Linked DNA regions of Homo sapiens. The protein of the gene in region 5 purifies or fractionates together with the protein of the main gene of each other region. This does not show direct contact. Each region holds a gene or a part of one and is shown on either strand. Other genes may lie near its edges. The genes, in order: ARHGEF10, ARHGAP35, NCOA7, LONP2, HSPA12A, PRKAR2A and NFXL1.

Region 1 (3,108 bases), on a different chromosome or scaffold from region 5:
ACAGGCCCCAGCCCTCACCATCATCCTACTCTGGCCAAGGCAAATGACATCACTGAATCTTCCACCGTGGTGAGAGTCCATTTCCCAAAGAGGAGAGTGGCAAAGTGAAGTCTGCAGGGAGCAGGAGCTGGGGGGACTGTGCAGGGACAGGCCCGCTCATCACCTGGCGAAGCACACACCTGTGATCCCTGCACACCAGCGATGCTGCCCCTGGGCAAGCCCCCAGAAGGAGCTTCTGCCCATGTCAGCAGAGCCAGCCACACAAATATACAGAGGCTTGATGTGTAATGCAAATGGGTAGCACCTAGCTACCATCCAAAGAAACACAGTGAGTGCACGTCCTTTCAGGAAGCACCTAGCTACCCATCCAGAGAAACAGTGAGAGTGCACCTCCTTTCAGGAAGCACCTCGCTACCCATCCAGAGAAACAGTGAGAGTGCACCTCCTTTCAGGATGCACCTAGCTACCCATCCAGAGAAACAGTGAGAGTGCACCTCCTTTCAGGATGCTCCTAGCTACCCATCCAGAGAAACAGTGAGAGTGCACTTCCTTTCAGGATGCTCCTAGCTACCCATCCAGAGAAACAGTGAGAGTGCACCTCCTTTCAGGGAGCACCTAGCTACCCATCCAGAGAAACAGTGAGAGTACACCTCCTTTCAGGGAGCACCTAGCTACCCATCCAGAGAAACACAGTGAGTGCACCTCCTTTTAGGGAGCACCTAGCTACCCATCCAGAGAAACTGTGAGAGTGTGCCTCCTTCCAGGATGCACCTGGCTATCCTCCAGAGGAACAGTGAGAGTGCACCTCCTTTCAGGAAGCACCTGGCTACCCATCCAGAGAAACAGTGAGAGTGCACCTCCTTTCAGGGAGCACCTGGCTATCCTCCAGAGGAACAGTGAGAGTGCACCTCCTTTCAGGGAGCACCTGGCTATCCTCCAGAGGAACAGTGAGAGTGCACCTCCTTTCAGGGAGCACCTAGCTACCCATCCAGAAAAACAGTGAGAGTGCACCTCCTTTCAGGGAGCACCTGGCTATCCTCCAGAGGAACAGTGAGAGTGCACCTCCTTTCAGGGAGCACCTGGCTATCCATCCAGAGGCAATGAGGGCACCTCCTTTCAGAGGCAGGCTGCAGGCAGGGAGAGGAAAGCACTATAGCTGTGGCACCAGCAGGGACTGACCCCAGCAAGGCTGAGAGAAAAAGCAACAGAGGCTGCTTGCACCATGGGACAGCTAGGAAAATGCAAAAGCCGGAAAGGTGAAAAGTACCCTTTAAGATACAAATTGGTACAACTACAGAGGAGGACCAAAGGAATAATTGACGTAAAACTCAGCATCATCATTTCCTAGGGTTGTGAGCAGAGAGGGCTGAGGCTGAGAAGGGGCAGCTGAGGCTCAGTGTGTGAGTCACAGCCCCTTCTGACCTGGGCACAGGCAGGTGGCCTCTTCTCGTTACCATTTAAACTGTGAAACTGTGCGTTATGCACAATTCTATGTATTTACAGGCTGAGTGTCACTTATCTGAAATTCTTGGGACCACAAGTGTTTTGGATTTTTTTTTTTAATGTTGGAATATTTGCATTGCACTTGCCGGTTGAGCATCCCAAATCTGAAATCCAAAATCTGAATTCCTCCAATGAGCACTGCCTTTCAGCATCACGTCGACACAGAATTTGGAGCATCTGAGGCCAAGGCAGGCGAATCACTTGAGTTCAGGAGTTCGAGACCAGCCTGGCCAACATGATGAAACCCCACCTCTACTAAAAATACAAAAATTAGCCAGGCATGGTGGCTGGTGCCTGTAATCCCAGCTACTAGGGAGGCTGAGGCAGGAGAATAGCTTGAACCTGGCAGGCAGAGGGTGCAGTGAGCCGAGACTGTGCCACTGGACTCCGTCCTGGGTGCCAGAGTGAGACTACGTCTCAAAAAGAAAAAAAAAAAATTGGAGCATTTCGCATTTTGTTTTTGGATTTGGGGTCCTCAACATGTACAATCCCATATATCATAATAAAAACATAAATTAGGAAATGAATGGCAAAACTAGAATTCCTTAATCCTTGTGGGTGGACCTGCCAAAATCTGAGTGCACGGAAGCCACCGTCAGGTCGGCCTGGGAGGAAATCACAGAAATGGAGCCCGTAGGAACAGTTCTGCTCTACAAGCTTCCTGCAAAGCGTTTTCTCTGTTAGTATTTCCCCCTGGCTGACATAGTAACCCACATAGAATCTAAGGCTGTGGTTTACTGAACTTAACAGGACGAGGAGTTTTCCGCGTCACTGCAGGCTCTGCACACACCACTTCTGCTGGCTGTGTTCTACCCATTACCGGCAATGCCACCATTTTATTAAATGGCCCAATCCGTCATTACGAACTGCGGGTCACCTCCTGTTTCGTGCTGTTAAAAATTAAATGCTGTGGCAAATGTCTTCTTGCATCATACTTTGTTCCTAGCTTAGGCTGTTTCCTGGGCCAATTCCCTGGATTGGGAATCCTGATTCCAGACACACAAGCATGTTTTAAGGCCTCCAATCCCTAACGGGACTGTGTCCAGAAAGGCCATGTGTTCCAGCCTGAGCTCTTACTGACATTGCAATAGCACAATGGAGCCTTTTCGGATCCCCGGCTTCCTTCTTCACAATATAAAATACAGAAAGGAAAGACGGAGATCCCGGCTTCCTTCTTCACAACATAAAATACAGAAAGGAACGACGGAGATCCCGGCTTCCTTCTTCACAACATAAAATACAGAAAGGAATGACGGAGATCCCGGCTTCCTTCTTCACAATATAAAATACAGAAAGGAACGACGGAGATCCCGGCTTCCTTCTTCACAACATAAAATACAGAAAGGAATGACGGAGATCCCGGCTTCCTTCTTCACAATATAAAACACACAAAGGAACAACGGAGATCCCGGCTTCCTTCTCCACAATATAAAACACAGAAAGGAATGATGGAAACTAATTCTGGCAGTAAACAGAATATAAAAACATAAGATTCTCCTTGGACTACTAAGGTAAAAAATGGAAAAATATATAAATTGATAATTCCAATTAAACAGTCTATTAAGTCATTATAATACACTGAAAAACCACAGATAATATGAATTG
Region 2 (3,500 bases), on a different chromosome or scaffold from region 5:
GTGACTCTTGATGACAAGTCACTGCAGCTGGCCTGCTGTGAAGTTTTGTGTGTGTGTGTGTGTGTGTGTGTGTGTGTGCGTGTCCAGAATGCCTGGTGGCCTGCGGGGGTCTTTACCAAGGGGATGCTGGCTTGACCCAGGCCTCCTTTCCCTAAGAGCAGCAGGAGCTGAGTGAGGCACAGGGATGCCCCCATCCCCTTCTGGCCAGCGAGCTGCTCCTATGATGTCACCCTCTGTCCACCGTGACAAAGACAGACACATCCTGCAGAAGAATCTGGGTCGCAGCAGGTGCCCTGCCTCCAGCAGGAAGCAAAACCAAGGCGGTGGAGGCAGGAGAGCACGGAGACAGACGCCCCGAAGCTCTCTCCCTGTTCCTCCCCAAACGCTAGGCGATGGGAAAGACGGGGACAATGCAGAGTAAATGTGTGCCGTGACACCCAGTATGCGACACAAGCCAAGAATTCTAAGTGGATTCACGAGCCACGCCACCCAGCCTTGGGTCTTCCCTCTTCAGCCGTCAGAGCCAGGATCAGTCTCTGGCTTTGCACCAAGGGCTGCTGTCCCCTCACACGGTGTCTGCGCTCTCGCTGGGCAGGGGTGGCTGCCCCACGTCCCCATTCTGGACAAGCCAACGCCCTCCCACCCAGTGCTGAGAGCTGCATGCGAGTCCCATGAGCACCCTCTGTGCACACACCTTCCAGAACTTAGAGCCCCAACAAAAGCGGGAGTGGGGGCAGCATGGTCCCAACAATCCCCAGGGACGCTCCTCTGTGGCTCCCATGCAAGTGCCCATTTGGGCTGCACGCTTCCCTGACCGGACGCTGAAGGCCGGCCTGCCACGACTGGCCATGCCCCTCAAACGACCGAGATGTCCTCTAGTCCCTCAGCCCGGAGCAGCAGATGAGAGGCTGAAGTTAGCGGGGGAAACAAGAGGAACCCTGTGGCTTCCTGTGCATGGGGGCTCCCTTTGGACATAAGCTGCCACAGTCCCTGCCTGCCCACCTTGGCTGACAAGGCGCTGCATTGGGAGTGCCCCAGACCTAGTTTCAGGTACTTCTGTGAGGAGAGGGGTAGAGAGCCCAGGTGCTCCTCCTCACCACCCCCTCCACACTCCTGGGGAAGTCACTGGCCGCACATACATCTGTGGAATCGGGCCAGGTGGCTTGGGACGTGGCTTTTGTGCTCACACAAAAGAGGTGGCAGTGTTAGCTCAAGCAGTGAGGGGGACTGGGCTGCTTTTGCCTGCGTTCACACAGGGACGGCCCAGGGCACCACCATGCTTTCCCTCCACCCCCAATTACGTGAGGAGCTGACCAGGTGAGCATAACCTCGAAAAGGGGGCGGGGTCAGTAAATGGGGCCGTTTCCTCATCTGCTGGGGTCCAGGGCTGGGGGAGTTTGGGAACGTTTCTGCCAACCTCAGCTAAAACGAAACACAGATGTCACCTTCCAGCCAACCCTGGGCCTACAGGGCCAGGCACAGCTCCACCAGAAGAGACAAAAATTCATCATCCAACATTCACAGAAAACACGCCTGAACCCTGGGTTTGTTCTCCGATTTGTGTTCCTCAAAAGGCGGTAAAACTTGCAAGGTTAGGTGTTTCCAAGCACCTTCGTTGGCCATTGAGAACTGGAGACAGTGAGCCAGCCGTCCCCAGAGGGAGCTCGGGAGCCGAAGGGCCACTCCCGTCTCCAACCACTGCAGGCGGGCACGGGCAGGGCAGCTGCAGACGCCCGGGAAAGGTGTCCATCAGGCCCCCTGGAATACACCACAGATCCTATTTCTTAAAGTGCAACGAGCCCCAAGGGCTGTCTGGCATGGGGCCCTCTGCACCCCACTAGCTCTCGCCTGGGGGGTGCCTAGTGTCAGGCTTCCTGGCCGCAGAGGCCACAGCCCAGCCATGCAAGTTTGAGGTGCTGGGGGGCAGAGGTGGCCAGGAGAAGAGCTTTTCCTGGGGCAGTGGGAAGGCTGGGCTAGGGTGGTGGTGGATGATATGCAGGCACAGCGCCTCTGGGTCAGCGAAGACCAGGAAGGATGCCCCTTCGAGGGCACCAGCAGACCGCCATTCCTTCAAAGTGCCCCACCTCGCCCACATCCCCATGAACACTCCTGCTGGTGGCCTCCATGGCTGGGATGAAACGATTCCACTTCAACACCCAACACACCAACCCCAACCCCAAGTGCACCTGGCACCTTCCAGCTGTCCCCAACCCCCCACCAAGCGCCCACACACACTCACACTCACATGTGCACACACACCCCCACCCCACGCACATGCTCAATTAGTGTTTCTATCGTAATGGACTGTGTTCTGGGGCAGCCCAGGTTCCAGCCTGCACTGCCATCTCCCCAGCTGTCCCCACCAAGGGCTCGAACCCTCTTCTTGGGAAAACGGGGGATCTAGCGACTAGACCTAAGTGGGTGAGTGGGACCCCAGCAGGCCCTCAGGCCACAGCTCCAGGCATCCTGGTTTTGCTGCCACAAAGACGAGGGTCAGCTCCACCTGTGTGCCTCCCTCCCTCCCGGCAGAGGCGGGCACAGAGTGGAATCTTGAGGTCTGTAGTTTTCTTTCTGTGGTTTCTTCCTTTTTAATTACTGGAAGGGTTTTTCCATTTTTTCTCCTAGTGTTCCTTTGTTTGCCAGGGAATGTTTCGGGAAGGCTGTGGAGTGGGACGGTGGGGATGAAGCGGGGAGTCCCACACTCTCTGGGTCCAGGCACAAAGCTATCCTCCGTTGTTCTGATCTGCAGAGCCAGCGCCCTCAGCAGGTACCTAGTGGTGGCAGAGCCGTGGCCTACACGTTCCCAAGGAGGCCGCCAGCCGGGCTGTACCCTTACCTTGGGGGTGTGTGCAGATGGAAGGTGGGAAGAGACAGACCAACAGGAAGTGTTCTCTTCAGGGGTTGCCAGCCCCACCCTGAATCTCAGAGCATCCTCCTCCCCGGCAAAGGCCAGGGCACTGTCCCGACCATGGGCTCTGTACAAGCAGAGGGAGGCACCCGGAGGCTGGTGTGAGCAGCTACGTGGGGTGGTGGTCCAGGGAACAGAGGGAGGGCACTGGAGCCATTGCCTGCCTAGTTCAGTCCTCAAATGGGTCCAAGCCAGCTCAGGTCTGCAGCGCCAGGCCCAGGGTACCTGGCAGCCCAGCCGATGGTACCATTGGCTGGTGCTCCCACTGAGGTCTTGAGAAGGTAATGGGGAGAGCCACTTGCCCCTGCCTCTGTCCCCAGTGGACTTGGTTTTGTTCAAGGCCAAATGCCACCCCGTCAGAGAGAGGACCGGTTCTCCTGTCGCCCCAGGTCTTGGTGGCTCACAGCGTGTGTTCGGCTTGAAGCTGGGAGGGAAGCAGTGGCTGCATTGGGGACTGGGGGGTGGGTGGAGGCGACTGTGGGGGCGACGGCTGACTTGTGACAGGCGTGGAAGTGAGGAAGGGGACGGTGGAAGCCACGGCAGAGGGGGAGCTGGGCCTGGCGCCGGGGGGCTCGGTGATGGGCCGATTGTA
Region 3 (3,500 bases), on a different chromosome or scaffold from region 5:
AAGAGACACATTTTCTCCTCATTCTCCTCAATATCCCTAAATTTCCAGGAGATGCTGTGGGGGCTGCAGGCACAGGTGATGGAGTATATTACATAAATGCAAAACAAGTTATGTTTAATGCCTGGGTTAATGTGGGTTTGTGTCTAAGGCAGGTAAAAGCTATTAGCAAATTCATTAATAAAAAGCCTATTATTTTTCACATTAAACTATAATTTATTAAAATGAGACAACTCTCCCAATAAGAATGATCATTCTAGGTAGTAGTCAGCCAGAAGGTGCACTCTTGCTTAGAATTTAATTTTGTTTACTGAGAAATCATGCTATGGAAGCTTGCTGAGTGTATTTGCTCTTGGCAGGTGTGTTAGCCAGAATATCTGGCTAGATGATGATGTTTTTAAGGGGCAAGATGCATGGTTTTAACAGTGTTGAAAACTAAGTGCAAGGACTTTATAAGACATTTTTATTCTACCACATATATGAAATAAAAGCAATTAATTGTTTTCTAAAAAGAATATTCCCTAATTATTTTTATTATAAAGACATCCTCAGTGATATACTGTTGAAGAATTTCTATGCCACTATCCCTCCTATCCTAGACTGCCACATAACCAAGAAGGTATCTTCTTTGGTGAATTGAAAATATAATTTTTTATAGGAGTATACAACCCTTGAGACTATCCAGGGGATCACATTTCTTATGCTGCTGAGCTACAGATGCTCCCTCCATAAGGACAATAAATCTTTCATTCCCTAGAATTATAAGCACTTTGAAAATTATAATCCTGCCTCTTTCTTGCACTTAAGAGGTGTTTGGATCTGCTCCATAGTATTCCTTTATCCTCAATGAAAGAGCACTTCTAATTACTGGTACTTGAGAACATCAAATTCTTCTTTCATTTAAAAATCAACTAGGTAGAAAGTTATGAAAGCAGTTCAGGACATAGTACCTATGATGACTCCATATTTGTTATATTAAAACCACCATTTAGCAGAAAGTCCCTTTAAATAATATCCTTCTAGAATTCTAAAATCTACAATTCAGATAAAGCTCTTATTCAAGAATAAAATTAAGTATTTTAAGATAAAGAATATCAAAACGCCATCCAAACCTAACAGACCCACAGACTTTCCATTGTAGCCCATACTCACCTCTCCCGAGGAACAGCAAACCAGTACTCTGGCTGCTTTCTCCGTTTGCCGTACTGCTGGACCATGGCTGCAGTGTGAGTGGCAAAGGATTTTCTCATTGGTTTTCCCACTTTGATGCACAGGAACATGGGTGGGGTCTTGCTTTTTTCTTCTTTTGAAGGAAGTATATCTGAATCACACACGAAAAAACTGTTCCTCAATATTGACAATATTGGTAATAGCAGAATTTTTCAACTTAAAAAAAATAGTGCACAATCCTCTCTTAGTCAAAACATTGCAGAAACATCCTACAACATCGTATCAGGACTAATAAATTTTTCAAGCCTTCTTTAGCACACAAGGAAAAAGCTTTGGTTGTTTCAGGTTGAACTACATCCCATGAGCTGCTACATACTGAAAATAAGTTTAAAAACCAATAGAATAGCAAATAATAGAGAATTGGGACAATTCACAGGAATACATATTAATGAATGCTACTGAGAACACAATATAACATAATGCAATTCAGTTTAGAATTGAGATTTCTTCAAAAACAGTTTAAACTCCTCTAGATTTAGAAAATAAAGGTAAAAAAGGAAAGTAACTTGAAAGATTAAAAGTAAACGACTTTTGAAGTAGGTATCTAGAGATCTATGTCACAGTCCAAGTTCCAAAATAGATACCATATCTTGTAAATTTTCTCCCCAATTGTTAATGCTATCAGCAAAGATACACTCTATTGAGAAAATACTGTTTTCAAATAAATGTACTAATGTGGGTATTACATGTGCAAATTGTAGAAAGGCAATTATGCAACAGAATATAAAGGCATTAAAGAAAAACAGCTTACCTTCAATGGGTACCTGAATTCTCTTTAACAGCCACAACTGAACTTCAGATTTATTATCCATTTGTGCACCTTGACAGCTGTTGTCCAGAGTAGATTCCAAAGAGGAGTCTAGAGCCTCTTTAATCACATTTGCTTCTGTAGAAGAGTTCAGTTTTACCGGGAGGGGCTCTCCCTTTTTCACCCAGGTCTTATCTGGCTCTTTATTGCCCTCAGTTATGGGATCACCCGCCTGGGAAAGAGAACTACTAAGGGTAATGTCTATTCCCCCTGGTTCAATACTTTTTCCATCACTTAATTCTGTTTTCTGCAAATTTTCAGATACCTGTGGCCCTTCTTTGTTCTTAGTCAGGTAATATTCAATGAGTTTAACTTTATCTAAATCTTCATGTATGTTCAGTGTGTTTTCTACTCGGCTTTCTGGCGAACCAGACTGCTTGTCCACTTCTGGCATTATATCTTGCTTCTCACAGGTTTCTAAATCTAGCGCCCCCTTCAGTTCAACATCATTCTCTGTTCCCAAAAAGGCTAGGGCTGACTGCACCTGCATTTCCACGGCAGAATTGTTTATTTGTGACTCAGCTTTCTTTCGTTCCTCTGGGTCAAGAGAAAGGCACTCCTTCAAGGTGTCTTTTTTGTGCATTCCACCACCAGTTTGAGAAGAAAGTTCTTCCAAGTCAACAAAATCATCATCTTCCCCTAGAAAGTTTTCTTTGGCTGTAGATTCAAATGCAGAAGAAGTGTCGGAAGGTTCCTTGCTGAGCTTAGTCACTGTGGGAGAACCATGGGATGTCTCCCTAGAGGAGTCCAGTTTCTTTAATTTCTCTGACACAGAGCTGCCTGAGGGCTTTGTAGGTGTATGTCCTGTGGACTTCTCCAAAGGTACTATTGGTCTGGAATCCGAAGTCATAATTTTCTCTCCATTCTGCTGTCGTTTTTCCTTGTTGATAGATTTGAACTTACTGAATGGGTTGATATCCTTTTCTGAAGCCAGGTCTTCCCATTCTCCAGGCCTGTACAGAGGACAAAGATCCTGAGGTAGGTCACTGTTGGGGGAGAAATGGTGGGTGCACATGGAATGTTAAAAATAAAACCAAAAACAAAATGGAGGAAAGGCAAAAAACAAAACAGAAACTCAACCAAAAACCAATACATAAATATATCACAACTTAAATTTATGTTCAAATGATTTCAGAATAAAAAAATAAAATCAAGAAATTGATTTCAAAATAAAACATAGGTCAACTAAAGGAAATGGAGAAAGAATGAACCATGAGAGTTGCATATCCTACTGGAAGCACATGATGGAATTGGAAGTTATACATGAACATGAAGATGTTACCCATAAGATTTCTAAATATGAAATAATAATGTTTCTGACTTTCATGAAGGAAAGGATAAAGGAGAGGAAATATTTTAGTACCAATGTCTAAAATTCCTTAAATGTGCAAACATTTTCCTTTTTATCAAATAGTGTAGAAAACAACTACATTAATTTTGAAAAGCTCGTTGACTTAGTAGCTAC
Region 4 (2,775 bases), on a different chromosome or scaffold from region 5:
TCTTGGGTATTATGAGTAATGCTATGAACATGGGTGTACACATCTCTCTTGAAGTCCCTTCTTAGGTCCTTTAGGGATACATATCCAGGAGCAGAACTACTAGATCACATATGCTAAGGTCTGAATGTCCCCCCACCAAATTCGTATGTTGAAGCAACCACCAACGTGATAGGTGAGGCTTTAGGAGGTGATTATGTCATGAGAGCTCCATCCTCATTAATGGATTTAGTGCCTTTATAAAGGGGCTCAAGGGAACCAATTACCTCCTTTTTGCCCTTCGATTCCCTTCCACCATATGAGGACACAGCAACAGGCCCCGTCCTAGAAGCTGAGACTGGGCCCTCAATAGATGATACCAGTCTGCCAGCACGCTGATCGTGGGCTTCTCAGTCTTCACAACTATGAGAAATAAATTCGTACTTTTAAATTACCCAGTCTCAGGTATTCTGTTACGGTTAACACAAATGACTAAGACAACAGGATAATTCTGTTTAACTTTTTGAGAACTGCCAAACTTTTCCACCGCAGCTGCACCATTTGACATTCCTTCCAGCAATGCACAAATGTTCCAGTTTCTCCACATCCTTGCCAGCACTCATTTTCTGGGTTTTTTATAATAGCCCTCCAAATGGGTGTGACGTATTTTGATTCTATGTCCCTAATGACTAGTGATGTTGAGCATTTTCTAGCATTGATTTTTAAGATGTTACCCAAAGACCCCTTGTATCAAAATAAGCTGGATTTTTTTATTGAAAATTATTAACTCTAGAAATTTTAGTTTAAACTAGACTTAGGGATATGTGTATTTTACCGGTATTCCACGTTTTATGCATGGGTTTTTAAAACTTCTCAAGTATTAAAACTAAAAGCTTTAGGTGCTTTGCTTATCAAGAAATCCTACACTGTCCACTGGAGACATCCATGTTTTTACTTGGCTCTGCCCCTTTAGTGGTCCCTGTGAACCTTACCTCAAACCATGCATCTGGGGCAGAGATCCTTACTTGCTTGGTGGTTACAAATGCAAATACAGTGAAGAATGTCATCTTTGTGATTGTTCCTGAAATAGTTCACGAGAAATCCATGACCGTAAAGTACTGTGATAGTGATGTCTACCACTGTGAGCTTCCAGTACTAGGTGATTGGTCTGCATTCACAGTGACCAAAATCAGCTATGTGGCCAGGTAATTCACTGCTGAGGGCTTTGGATTTTCCTTTATGAACTACTGAAATGAGGTCAACTTGACTATTACTAAGGGACATTTTGCTACAAAGAATGTTAGTTTTGCCAATTCCCTTTCCAAATCTAAAATTTATTTTAACCAGGATTTTAGATGTAAACATCAAGTAGTTTTGGTTGTTTCAATGAAGTAACATGTTTAAGCTCACATTATTTGAAGTACTTCAGTTCCTATTGCCATGAAAATTGTATCCAGCAGCTAAAAAAAAAAAAAAAAAAAAAGACTACAGTTAGTCATTATCCAATTTGATGATTTATGGTCCAACACTAATGCTCATTTTTTTTGTTTGTTTTACAAACATTTGGTGGATACCACAATGAAAACTGCACTTAAAAAACAAAAATGCTGAAAGAGGAAGGAAATATCAAAAAGGTCTGAATAGACAACAGGCAAATATGGTGAGTGGTCATTGAGATGTTTTAAAAGTTACAGCAAAAGGACTTCTAAAACAATTTTAGGAAAAGCTTTGTCATGAAAATTCATTTCTTTGGAAATACTGTAGTTTGTACTTAATGACACTGTCAGCACATTTCTAGGCAATACAAACTCTTGAGGCTAAATCCTCATCCTGACATGACAGTGCAAGCCTGTCAAAATGTGACCCCAAAACCAGGTGTCCTTTTGCTCCATTATTTATATCTGTAAACCTGTTATTATTTTCAGAATTCAGAAAGGCCTAAGAAAATTACATCTATGATAATAAAGTGTATTTCTTTGTCAAGTTTCTAGAGCTATATAAGGATAGCGAAAATATTTGGTTCAGCAAGACACTGGGGTATCAAGTCAGGCATAATAAGCACTTTATAGCACATCTAGCCTTCCTCATTCCCTTACGCAGTGGACATCATACCCTTTTGTGGAGGAGGGACCAGGCAGAGAAGGTATTTAAATAAAAACTGGTAGATACAGAGTCAGAAGTCAACCCAGGCAGTTAGAATCTACAACCCACACTGTTTGCCACCAAATCTTAGTAGATGCTTGATAAGGAATTTTGTTTGGATGGTGCCATTTTTAGATAAACGTACGTTTCTTTTGGTAAATTCAGGTTAGGATCATAAGCAGTAAACTACCAAATACTCCTTTGTGCTTTGAACATGCACACTGGATGAGTGGGGAGGGGAATGACAAAGCTTCAAACTCCGGGTCTCTGTAACACTCTATCTGTACCTTTCATGTTTAACCTACACAAATACCACAGTCCTGCGTGGTAGTTCACACACACTATTCACCCTGTCGAGTTTCGACATTACTTTTATGTCCATTCTAATGCAGCAGTCACAGACTGACCCCCCAGGTATGTTGGATTTGATCCATTATTTTCTTAATTTGGATTACTTACCAATTCTTCTAATCAGGAGTGTGAATGAAATAGAATTCTACCATTAGTAGAATCACTGCAGATGTTTCTAAATATGAAGAGCTTTTGGGGGTTGGAGGCAGCACACTATTATTTTGGTGAGCTAAGCTATCTACAGCCACTTACATACGTTTGAAGTTTGCAGAAAGGTGGGTCTTAAAATCATACATATTACAATAA
Region 5 (3,500 bases):
GGGCAACCACTACTGTCAAGTGAGGGAACACACAAGAGACTAGAAAAGAAAAGCTGGGCCTGCGGCTCCACCATTGCAGAGTGTTTTATTCACAGCAATTTGACTTGGCACTTCATTCCTTTGAGTTAAGCATTCTTCAAATACTTTTTTAAAATGTAACTCCTGCTGGAGGGACAAGTCATGAATTTGTTAACGGCAAGGAGGTTTGGATCCTTGTGCCGTCTCTGAGTGACCGGGAGTGGCTGGCGGGACTGCTGGAGGATTCTGTAGCCATTGCGGAGTTCAGCTGGAAAGCATGCAGAGGGAGTCGGCAGACCTCGATTCTGAGCCTGGCTTTGCCTAGTGTCCTGGGGCAGTCTCTTCCCCTCCCTGACTTCAGTTTCCCCATCTGTAAAATGAGAGGGTGGGCCCAGTCCAGACATTAGACAACCTGGTCCCATCTAGCTGTGGATGTATCCATGAGCTCTGTTTTCTAACTGCTGGCCCAGGGAAACCACCACCCAAACTGATAACCATCATCCCTTCAAATCGGTCCAGCAGCCATGTGGACTGACTACAAGCAGTTGTTTTCTGAAACTTTCATCTGTCCTTTGGGCACAGACTCCTGCCTGATGGTTGTGCTGTAAACAGTTTCTTATCCCAGCCAGCGGAGATGGTCACTAAGGGACAATGACTAAAGGAAAGAAAAGGAAGTAAGTGGCCAGAGGAGTTTAGCCTTCAGCCCAAGGAAACATGGGAGACAAGCAAAGAGAGGCCAGCCTGAGGCCTCAGAGGCAGCAGGCTGGAGCCCGAATACCTACAGCTTCCCTGTCCCAAACAGAACCAGCCGCCTGGGTACAGGAACCACTGTTCCTCATCACAGAGAAACCAATAAGATCACGAGGTCTGATTTACAAAACATAGGAAGCCCCAAGGGACATCATTTAATTGTCAGTTTATAGGAAGCAAAGGGCACTGGCGTAATCCATTTCCCTCTGAGATCTTGGGTGCTAAGTGGGTCGATGAAACAGGAGCTCCATCCTACAGAACTTACTCCTGGAGTCTCTGTTTTCTGACATTAAAATTCTGAACATAACTGACAAAACTACCCACTAAGTATGCAAACATCTGGGAAGCAAAGCAGTCTCAAAATTTCAAATGACTGAATAGGAAGTGACTGTAGGCTCTTCCTATTGGCTGTTATTTGAGGCTCCACCCCATATCGGAGCAAATATTTTTTAAATGAACACTTATCCCACATCAAATATAAATACACTCAGTCCTCAACTTAGGATGACTCAACTTATGATATTTTCAACGTTTTTATGGGTTTATAGGGACGTAACCCTATTGTAAGTCAAGGAGCATCTGTTCAAGCACTTCCACTGTAATGCAGCATATTTTCCTACAAATCTTCACATTCTACAAACCCATACACTAAAAATAACAGGATTCATGAGGAAAACAAGGTCGGTGTACATCACTCCACACCTGCGGAACCTTGCTACCGGAACCTTTCCAAAAACAGTAACGGAGCACTCACTTCTTAGGGGGCCATTCTCATCAAAATGCAAAACCCAACAGGGCACAGTGGTTCACACCTGTAATCCCAGAGCTTTGGGAAACCAAGACAGGCAGATCACACCTGTAATCCCAGAGCTTTGGGAAACCAAGACAGGCAGATCACCAAGACAGGCAGTTTGAGACCCGCCTGGCCAACATGGTGAAACTCTGCCTCTACTAAAAATACAAAAATTAGCTGGACATGGTGGCACACACCTGTAGTCCCAGCTACTCGGGAAGCTGAGGCAGAAGAATCACTTGAACCCAGGTGGTGGAGGCTGCAGTGAGCCGAGATCACACCACTATACTCCAGCTTGGGCAATAGAGCGAGACTCTGTCTAAAAAAAAAAAAAAAAAAAGCAAAACCCATCCAGGGTGTCACCCACACACCCATACCCATCATTTTCTTATAGGGACAATGTCTTTGCAGCTCCTTCATCTGCCCTCTCAGCTGCCAACAGAGCTTAAGGGAATGGGGAATGGAACAATACTAAAACAGCCCTGACTTACACTAAAGGTAGTTGCATCTACAGATTTTCAGCTTTTTTTTTTTTTTTGCTTTTTTCATATATTAGCCTTCAATCATGAAAAAAGTGCATTCTGGGCTGAGCACGGTGGCTCATGCCTGTAATCCCAGCACTTTGGGAGGCCGAGGAGGGCAGATCACAAGGTCAGGAGATCGAGACCATCCTAGCTAACACGGTGAAACCCTGCCTCTACTAAAAATACAAAAATTAGCCAGGCGTGGTGGTGGGCGAGTGTAGTCCCAGCTACTCGGGAGGCTGAGGCAGGAGACTGGCATGAACCCGGGAGGCGGAGCTTGCAGTGAGCCGAGATCGAGCCGCTGCACTCCAGCCTGAGCGACAGAGCGAGACTCCGTCTCGAAAAGAAAAAAAAGAAAAAAGTTCATCCTGATCTGTCAAAGTGCAAACATACTGGGAAAAATTGAGAATGTGCCAACACAACTTTTCTGAATACCACCATCATTCTTCATTTATCACTTATAGAAACACATGTTCTAGCACAACAAACAAATAATTGTAAGTGTCAGACAATCACTGGGCACTTGCAGAACGTCTTAAGAAGTGAGATCTAACCTACAAGTTGCTTTAAAGCATAATATAGTTTTCTAAAGTTTGTAGTTTCAACATTTTTGCCAAGCCAACTCTGTTAGATTAAAAATAGCCACACATTCTTTGCAGGTCCTCTCACTAAGAGGTGAAGGCAATTTCTCCATCCCTCTATCTGAGCTGGCTTCAAGACTTGCTGTGACCACCAGGAATACAGCAGACGTGATTTTATTGGACTTCCCAGGAACGCCTCAAGAGGCCTTGCAGCTTCCCCTCTCATCCTCTTGCTGTCCTGAGGCCACCACATAAAGAAGCCTGAGCTTGCCTCTTAGAGGATAAAAGACCATGTGGAGAACGAAGCCCAGCCGACAGCCAGCACCAACCCCCAGACCTGTGAGCGAGGTCATCTTGGACTACCCAGACTAGTTGAGCCATCAGAGTGTTGCAGTCACATAAGTGACCACAGGGAAGACCACCAAAACAACCACCCAACAGAGACCTGCCCAGAGAATCATAAGCCATAAAATGACTATTGTTGCCAGGCACGGTGGCTCATGCCTGTAATCTCAGCACTCTGGGAGGCTGAGGCAGGAGGGTTGCTTGAGCCCAGGAGTTTGAGACCAGCCTGGGCAACATAGTGAGACCTTGTCCCTATTTAAAAAAAAAAAAAAAGCCAGGCATGGAGATGTGCACCTTTAGTCCCAGCTACCCACAAAACTGAGGTGGGAGGATCGTTTCAGCCCAGGAAGCAGAGCTTACATAAGCCAAGATCACGCCACTGCTCTCCAGCCTGGGTCACAGAGGAAGACCTTGTCTTAAAATAAATTTTTTTAAAAAGACTATTGTTTTAACCCATTAAACTTTGGGGTGGTTTGCTACATAGTAAAA
Region 6 (3,500 bases), on a different chromosome or scaffold from region 5:
CACCACACCTGTCTTTTTGTTGTTGTTGTTGTTGAGACAGAGTCTCACTATGTTGCTCAGGCTGGTCTTGAACTTCTGGGCTCAAGCAGTCCTCCTGCCTTGGCCTCCCAAAGTGCTGGAATTACAGGCATGAGCCACTGTGCCCAGCCAAATAACACATTCTTTCTTTTTTTTCTTTTTTGAGATGATCTTGGCTCACTGCAACCTCTGCCTCCTGGGTTCAAGCGATTCTCCTACCTCGGCCTCCTGAGTAGCTGGGATTACAGACGTGTGCACATGTGCCACCACGCCCAGCCAATTTTTGTATTTTTAGTAGAAATGGAGTTTCACCATGTTGGCCAGGCTGGTCTCGAACTCCTGACCTCAGGTGATCTGCCCACCTCGGCCTCCCAAAGTGCTGGGATTACAGGCAAGAGCCACCGCACCCGGCCAAATAACCCATTCTTGGATAATCTCTAAGACCAAGTCTCAATGAAAATTGAAAACTGTATATTGAGCTGTAAAACCACCTGCTTTGTGGCTGGGGTATGAGGATTAAATACATGGGCATAAGAGAAGTGACTCCCTTAGTGCCTGGTACAAGGTGGGTGTTCACAGAATGATGGCACAAGCTCCCCATGGCCATGGTGCTACTCACCACCCTTCTTTTCCTGAGACTTCCTTTCCTAAGACTCCTATTCTTTCTATTTCCTTGCCTTTGGCAGTCATTTCCTCTTCTCCTTGCTTTCTTAGGTCAGTGACCTATCAAGATATCCTTTTGGCCTCTACTTTTCTCCTGTTAATTGACTTGCTTTGCAAGCCCAGACTCTTCCAAAGCTTCAATACCACCTCTAGGAAAGTAACTCACAGAAGGTCCTCTCCAGCCTGACTTCTTCTTTGGCCTTGGAAATGCCTTCTGAGGTTGAAGTAGGGAGGATCTGGTGTCGTCACTGAGTTTTTCAAGTTGGATCCTACATTCCTGCTTTTATAATGGGCAGCTGCCATCACGGCCCCTATACGTAGTCTCTTTTGCTTTCTCTTGCTTTATTGAAAGTCAATAGAAGGTTTCCTGGGAAATTCCTGCAGTCACAGGAGAGAGTAGCACTCCTTTTCTCTTTTGAACTTCAGGGGTGTTTGCTTGCCTCTGACCACTTGCTGCCTGTGGGAATTTCCTCTTCACTGCTCGATTGGATGCTCATCAAAGGCTATGTTGATGTCTGGTGCTTTTTTTATATTCTCCACAGCCATGGGAACTGGCCTTGCACCACATGAAAAGAGAGTTTTGGGAAGTGTTAAAGCATGCGTAAAAAGGGGTAGAACCAGCTGGGTGTGGTGACTCATGATGTAATCCCAGTACTTTGGGAGGCCACGGTGGGCAAATCACATGAGCCTAGGAATTCAAGACCAGCATGGGCAACGTGGTGAAACCCTGTCTCTATGAAAAATAAGAAATTAGCTGATGTGGCGGCACATGCCTGTAGTCCCAGCTACTTGGGACGCTGAGTTGGGAGGATCACCTGGGCCTAAGAGGTCAAGGCTGCAGTGAGCTGTGATCATGCCACTACACTCCAGCCTGCTGAGTGACAGAGTGAGACTCTGTCTCAAAAAAAAAAAGTCGCTTGCCGGGCGTAGTGGCTCGTGCCTGTAATCCCAGCACTTCGGAGGCCAAGGTGGGCAGATCACCTGAGGTCAGGAGTTGGAGACCAGCCTGACAAACATGGAGAAACCCTGTCTCTACTAAAAAATACAAAATTAGCTGGGCATGGTGGCGCATGCCTATAATCCTAGCTACTCTGGAAGCCAAGGCAGGAGAATCACTTGAACCTGGGAGACGGAGGTTGCGGTGAGGCAAGATTGCGCCATTGCACTCCAACCTGGTCAACAAGAACGAAACTCCATCTCAAAAAAAAAAAAAGTCGCTGTAAGAGATATTTGTTGTGGTCGGGCACAGTGGCTCACGCCTGTAATACCAGCACTTTGGGAGGCCAAGGCGGGCGGATCATGAGGTCAGGAGATTGAGACCATCCTGGCTAACACGGTGAAACCCCGTCTCTACTAAAAATACAAAAAATTAGCCGGGCGCGGTGGCAGGCGCCTGTAGCCCCAGCTACTCAGGAGGCTGAAGCAGGAGAATGGCGTGAACCAGGGAGGCGGAGCTTGCAGTGAGCCGAGATTGTGCCACTGCACTCCAGCCTGGGTGGCAGAGCGAGACTCTGTCTCAAAAAAGAAAAAAAAAAAGAAAGATATTTGTTGTTTTCTCTTTAGTTAGAAATCTGTTGTTGTTGTTGTTGTTTTTGAGATGGACTCTTGCTCTGTCATCCAGGCTGGAGTCCAGTGGCATTATCTCGGCTCACTGCAACCTCCGCCTCCAGGATTCAAGCAATTCTCCTGCCTCAGCCTCCTGCATAGCTGGGATTATAGGCATGTGCCAACAGTACTGGCTAATTTTTTATATTTTTGGTAGAGATGGGAATTCACCATGTTGGCTAGGCTGGTTTCGAACTCCTGACCTCAAGTGATCCACCCACCTCAGCCTCCCAAAGTGCTGGGATTACAGGCGTGAGCCATGCGCCCAGCCGAAATATTGTTTGCTATTGCAATTGTACTAATCTTTGTTACACTGTAGGTGGATTTGTAAAATATTGGGAGTTAACTTTGCTGCCCTCTGTGTATTTTTTAATATTTATTTATTTATTTATTTTGAGACGGAGTCTCTGTTGCCCAGGCTGGAGTATAGTGGTGTGATCTCGGCTCACTGCATCCTCTGCCTCCAGGGTTCAAGTAATTCTCATGCCTCAGCCTCCCAAGTAGCTGGGACTATAGGTGTACACCACCATGCCCAGCTAATTTTTGTATTTGTAGTAGACACGAGATTTCACCATGTTGGCCAGGCTGGTCTCGAACTCCTGACCTCAAGTGATCCACCCACTTTGGCCTCCCAAAATGCTGGGATTATAGGTGTGAGCCACTGTGCCAGGCCTTTTATTTTATCTATCTATGTATCTATGTATGTGTGTGTGTGTGTCTGTCTGTCTGTCTCTCTGTCTGTCTATATCTATCTATCTATCTATCTATCTATCTATCTATCTATCTATCTATCTTTTGAGACGGTCTCACTCTGTTGGCCAGGCTGGAGTGCAGTGGTGCTCTCACACCTCACTGCAACTTCGCCTCCCAGGGCTCAAGCAATCCTCCCACCTCTGCCTCCCCAGTAACTGGGACCACAAGTGCACGCCACCACGCCTGGCTAATTTTTGTATTTTTTGTACAGATGGGTTTCGCCATGTTGCCCAGGCTGTTCTCAAACTTCTGGGCTCAAACAATCCACCCACCTCCCCACCTCAGCCTCCCAAAGTGCTGGGAATACAGTCGTGAGCCACTGTTCCCAGCCTGTATGGGTTTTTTTTAAATAAATAAATAAAATATTGGGGTTTTCTGTTTTTGTGGGGTTTTTTTGTTTGTTTTTTTTTTTGAGATGGAGTCTCGCTCTGTCTCCCAGGCTAGAGTGCAGTGGTGTGATC
Region 7 (3,500 bases), on a different chromosome or scaffold from region 5:
CATTAAATATCTGCTTCAAATAGTGATTACTTGCTTATTTTCTCTTAACTTAAAAAAGAGAATACCATAAAATTTTTAAAAATCAACTTAATAATTACTATGTGCCACTATTGGACTTAGCTCCCATGTTGTTTTTATTCTTTACTTTTCTTTATTGTTTGTTATTCTTGCAAAGTGTCCAGGGAATACAATGTTCTACAAATGTGCTGTCCAACAGAGCTTCCTGGTATGTGCGTGGGATGGAATGTTGTAAATCTGCATTAGTCCACAGAGTAGCACTAGCCACATATGGCTACTGAGCACTTGAAATGTGGGTAGTGAAAATGAGGAACCAAATTTTTAATACTGTTTTATGCTAATTCATTACAATTTGCATTTAAATATCCACATGTGACTAGTGGCTACCATCTCAGATAGTGCAGCTCTAGAGAGTTTTCTGGGGAGCTACAAATTTTTCTCTCGACTGTTAAACTTTTTTTAAGTTTAGATGAAAATTGTTCTAAAGCTTATGTTGGCACTTCACTACCTCCTTAATGAAAGAACACTGATCTACTGTTTTTGATGTCTTGACATCAAAACTATGACCAATTTCTGTACTACGACAGAATAAAACGATGACCTACTGAGTTGAAGAGTGGTCTTTATATTAGTTTTAGACTGCCTTTTGTAGTACATCTATCTTTTATTCATTCATTTATTGCTGCCAATGTCACTTTTACTCTCAGTATATTTAATTTGTATCAGTTTCTCCTGTCTCACCAGACCCTCAGACTCTAGTTTTTTGTTCAAATCTACCACAGCTTAGACATGAGATTACCAAATCCTGAGTAAAGTGCATTTAGTAAAAGCATTTTATGGCATGGAATTTTATTACTTGGAGGGTTTTTTTTTTTTTATTCCTTAGTTCTTCATTTTTGGCTTGATTTAGTGATAAACATAGTCTTGTCCTCCAAAGACAGTCCAGACATAAGAAAATTAACATGAACAAACACTGGAGACAAAAATAAGTATCGTGTGTTTATAGACATTAAGTCCATCAGCTTAGAAGAGGATTTTATCTTTTCTCATTCAGAGGATACTTACAGAGTGCCTATAACATGCTAAACACCATGACAGGGAAATGGAACACAGTAAGAAATAAACAGTATAATCATCTGTTAAGTGCTAAATAAATAACAATAGTAATTGCAGCTACTATTTATTACACATAGCATTGTTTTAAATGCTATGTAAGCACTACCTCTTTTATAGTAATGGCAGCTACTATTTATTAAACATAGCATTGTTTTAAATGCTATGTAAGCACTACCTCTTTTATTCCTTTCAATAAATCTCTATAAACTCTATTTTACAGATGAGGAAACAAGGTTACAGATACCTAGAATCACAAAGCTCTACATTATGAACCCAGTACAAAGAAAGTCAAGAGGAAGGAACAGCTAAGCCTTCCCAAGGGAACCTGGGGAAGGAAAACCTTCTCAAACAAGGAAGTGCTTCCAATAAGTATTAGCAGGATTCTAGTAAGCAGAGAGCTAAAGGAAAAACATATTGTATTTTACACAGGAAAAAAATATATATACATTGCCACAGCCTAAGCTAAGCGAGGGTACAATATATGTATTAGGGCACTTAAGTAACAGATTCACAGAGATGATTGCTAGATGACGAGACTGAACAAGCAGGCAAATGTCTTATCATAGCCTCCCTGGTATGCCGAGTCTGCATATACCTACACATACACATTTTTTATACAATGCACTTTTTCCATAAGTGATGAAGAGCCATTGAAGAATTTAGAACAGGGAAGTGGTGTGACTAGAGACAAGGAAATGGGTCACGAAGTTGTGGCCAAAGCCCAGAAAAGAGTTGTTCCAAAGTACTAACGGGTGGGTGGCATATGGCACTTGGACAAGACATGAGATTTCAGAGAAAACTTAAGAGACATCTCACATTAAAAATGGCTTGACCAAGTATTTATTTTCAGGTACAGGGGGTCAATTTAAATATCTAAAACTTAAAGATTCCACTCCCTAAAAGGCCAAGTGTATAAATTTAAATTCAGAAGTTCCCTATCCTAGGAAAACATATCAGAAACTATGAACATAAATGAAAGGCAAAGGACCTATAAAAGATCCTCAATACATATCCATCACATGGATGAATAAAAGCGAATTTCAAGAGACAAAAAAGACAAGCTTTAGGGAATGACAATAGGAATATGAAGGAAAAAAAAGGAGTTACGACTATAACTGAGATAGGGTAAATCAGAGGTCAAAAAAGTTGGTTTCAAAGGAGTAAGCACTGCCAACAGGGAAGATCAAGGAAACAGAGAATTGAGAAAAAGACTATTAGGACAGTATATTTTCCTTCATAAGTTTTGTTGAGCAGTATATAGTTTGTTTCCATCAGGCTTTGTAATCATTAGTTTTTGCCCATTTACTCCTCTGTTACCATCATTTTATCTTAAAATTAGTTCTTTCCAAGTTTACATGTTATTTTACTTTATAAGGCTATTCATATGAGGTCTTTTTAAGGCAATATTTTCAAAGGACAATACTGATGGTAAAAAGAATTTCATAAATAACAGCAACAAAGTTAATCTCAAGCCATTTCTTAAGCAATGAAACATTCTACCCGTTACATTGTGTTCCTTGTTCAAAGACCTCAAATCTAAAGCACATTGACCAAAACAGGGCATTGAATTTGGTTCCAACATAAAAAATAATTTTCCTTTTACTGTTAAATTGCAGAAAATTAAATCGCCAAAGCTTATGTTTAAAATAAATGTTTAAAGAACTAGTAGGCTCATTTCAATAATAAAAAAGTTCTATGAAGTAAAACCTCAAAATTAAAAGGCAAAAAAAAAAAAAAAAGCCAAACAACTACCAAAACACATAGATCAAAAAACAAGAACAAGAAAACCACACAAAAACAACTTATATAGAAAAGTATTTTCAATAACTTAAAATATTTACCTTTTTTATTCTTTTACAAGGACATCTAAGTTTTACCTTCTGGTTGCAGTTAAAGGGACATTCACCAGGATGACACATCTCTTTGCATCTATGACCACAAGGAAGCTAAAATAAAATCAAAATAAAGCAATTACATACTTACATCTTGATCATACTCTAGTTTCCCCCATACCCCAACAATTTTAAGAGAGTCCATCACACAAAGGGTCAATCAATCCTAGCTAATGGGATAATTTGTAAACTATTTTTCTTTTAGATATAAATTATTTTAATTACACTTATATAATTTAATTATATATATATAATTTAATTATATTTAATTATTCTCCCCAGCTCCATTCCAACAGTACATCTTACAGCCACCCTTGTAGCTAGTTATAGCCATATAACTGAGTTCTGGTCAATGGAATGTAAGCAAGTACAGGTGATTCATGCTTCAGATCATTTCAAGAGTATACTTCCATGTTCTTCTCTTCCCCATGTCCTGGATATGATGAAAGCTGGAGCGGTAATGGAAACCATATG

The links.
Region 1: the proteins of HSPA12A (region 5) and ARHGEF10 purify together in Homo sapiens (affinity purification with mass spectrometry; one large-scale study listed by BioGRID and IntAct). This does not show direct contact.
Region 2: the proteins of HSPA12A (region 5) and ARHGAP35 purify together in Homo sapiens (affinity purification with mass spectrometry; one large-scale study listed by BioGRID and IntAct). This does not show direct contact.
Region 3: the proteins of HSPA12A (region 5) and NCOA7 purify together in Homo sapiens (affinity purification with mass spectrometry; one large-scale study listed by BioGRID and IntAct). This does not show direct contact.
Region 4: the proteins of HSPA12A (region 5) and LONP2 purify together in Homo sapiens (affinity purification with mass spectrometry; one large-scale study listed by BioGRID and IntAct). This does not show direct contact.
Region 6: the proteins of HSPA12A (region 5) and PRKAR2A purify together in Homo sapiens (affinity purification with mass spectrometry; one large-scale study listed by BioGRID and IntAct). This does not show direct contact.
Region 7: the proteins of HSPA12A (region 5) and NFXL1 purify together in Homo sapiens (affinity purification with mass spectrometry; one large-scale study listed by BioGRID and IntAct). This does not show direct contact.

The regions. Positions count from the first base shown.
Region 1 is NC_000008.11:1,952,926-1,956,033, reverse strand, and holds part of ARHGEF10 (rho guanine nucleotide exchange factor 10), read right to left. Parts: intron 1-3,108. UniProt on the Homo sapiens protein: May play a role in developmental myelination of peripheral nerves.
Region 2 is NC_000019.10:47,000,497-47,003,996, reverse strand, and holds part of ARHGAP35 (rho GTPase-activating protein 35), read right to left. Parts: coding exon 3,309-3,500; 3' UTR 1-3,308.
Region 3 is NC_000006.12:125,888,460-125,891,959, reverse strand, and holds part of NCOA7 (nuclear receptor coactivator 7), read right to left. Parts: intron 3,022-3,500; coding exon 1,979-3,021; intron 1,319-1,978; coding exon 1,150-1,318; intron 1-1,149. UniProt on the Homo sapiens protein: Enhances the transcriptional activities of several nuclear receptors. Involved in the coactivation of different nuclear receptors, such as ESR1, THRB, PPARG and RARA.
Region 4 is NC_000016.10:48,355,075-48,357,849, forward strand, and holds the end of LONP2 (lon protease homolog 2, peroxisomal), read left to right. Parts: 3' UTR 1-1,590; coding exon of another isoform or gene 1,591-1,636; 3' UTR 1,637-2,275; downstream 2,276-2,775. UniProt on the Homo sapiens protein: ATP-dependent serine protease that mediates the selective degradation of misfolded and unassembled polypeptides in the peroxisomal matrix.
Region 5 is NC_000010.11:116,732,567-116,736,066, forward strand, and holds part of HSPA12A (heat shock 70 kDa protein 12A), read right to left. Parts: intron 1-3,500. UniProt on the Homo sapiens protein: Adapter protein for SORL1, but not SORT1. Delays SORL1 internalization and affects SORL1 subcellular localization.
Region 6 is NC_000003.12:48,767,875-48,771,374, reverse strand, and holds part of PRKAR2A (cAMP-dependent protein kinase type II-alpha regulatory subunit), read left to right. Parts: intron 1-3,500. UniProt on the Homo sapiens protein: Regulatory subunit of the cAMP-dependent protein kinases involved in cAMP signaling in cells. Type II regulatory chains mediate membrane association by binding to anchoring proteins, including the MAP2 kinase.
Region 7 is NC_000004.12:47,852,084-47,855,583, forward strand, and holds part of NFXL1 (NF-X1-type zinc finger protein NFXL1), read right to left. Parts: intron 3,081-3,500; coding exon 2,976-3,080; intron 1-2,975.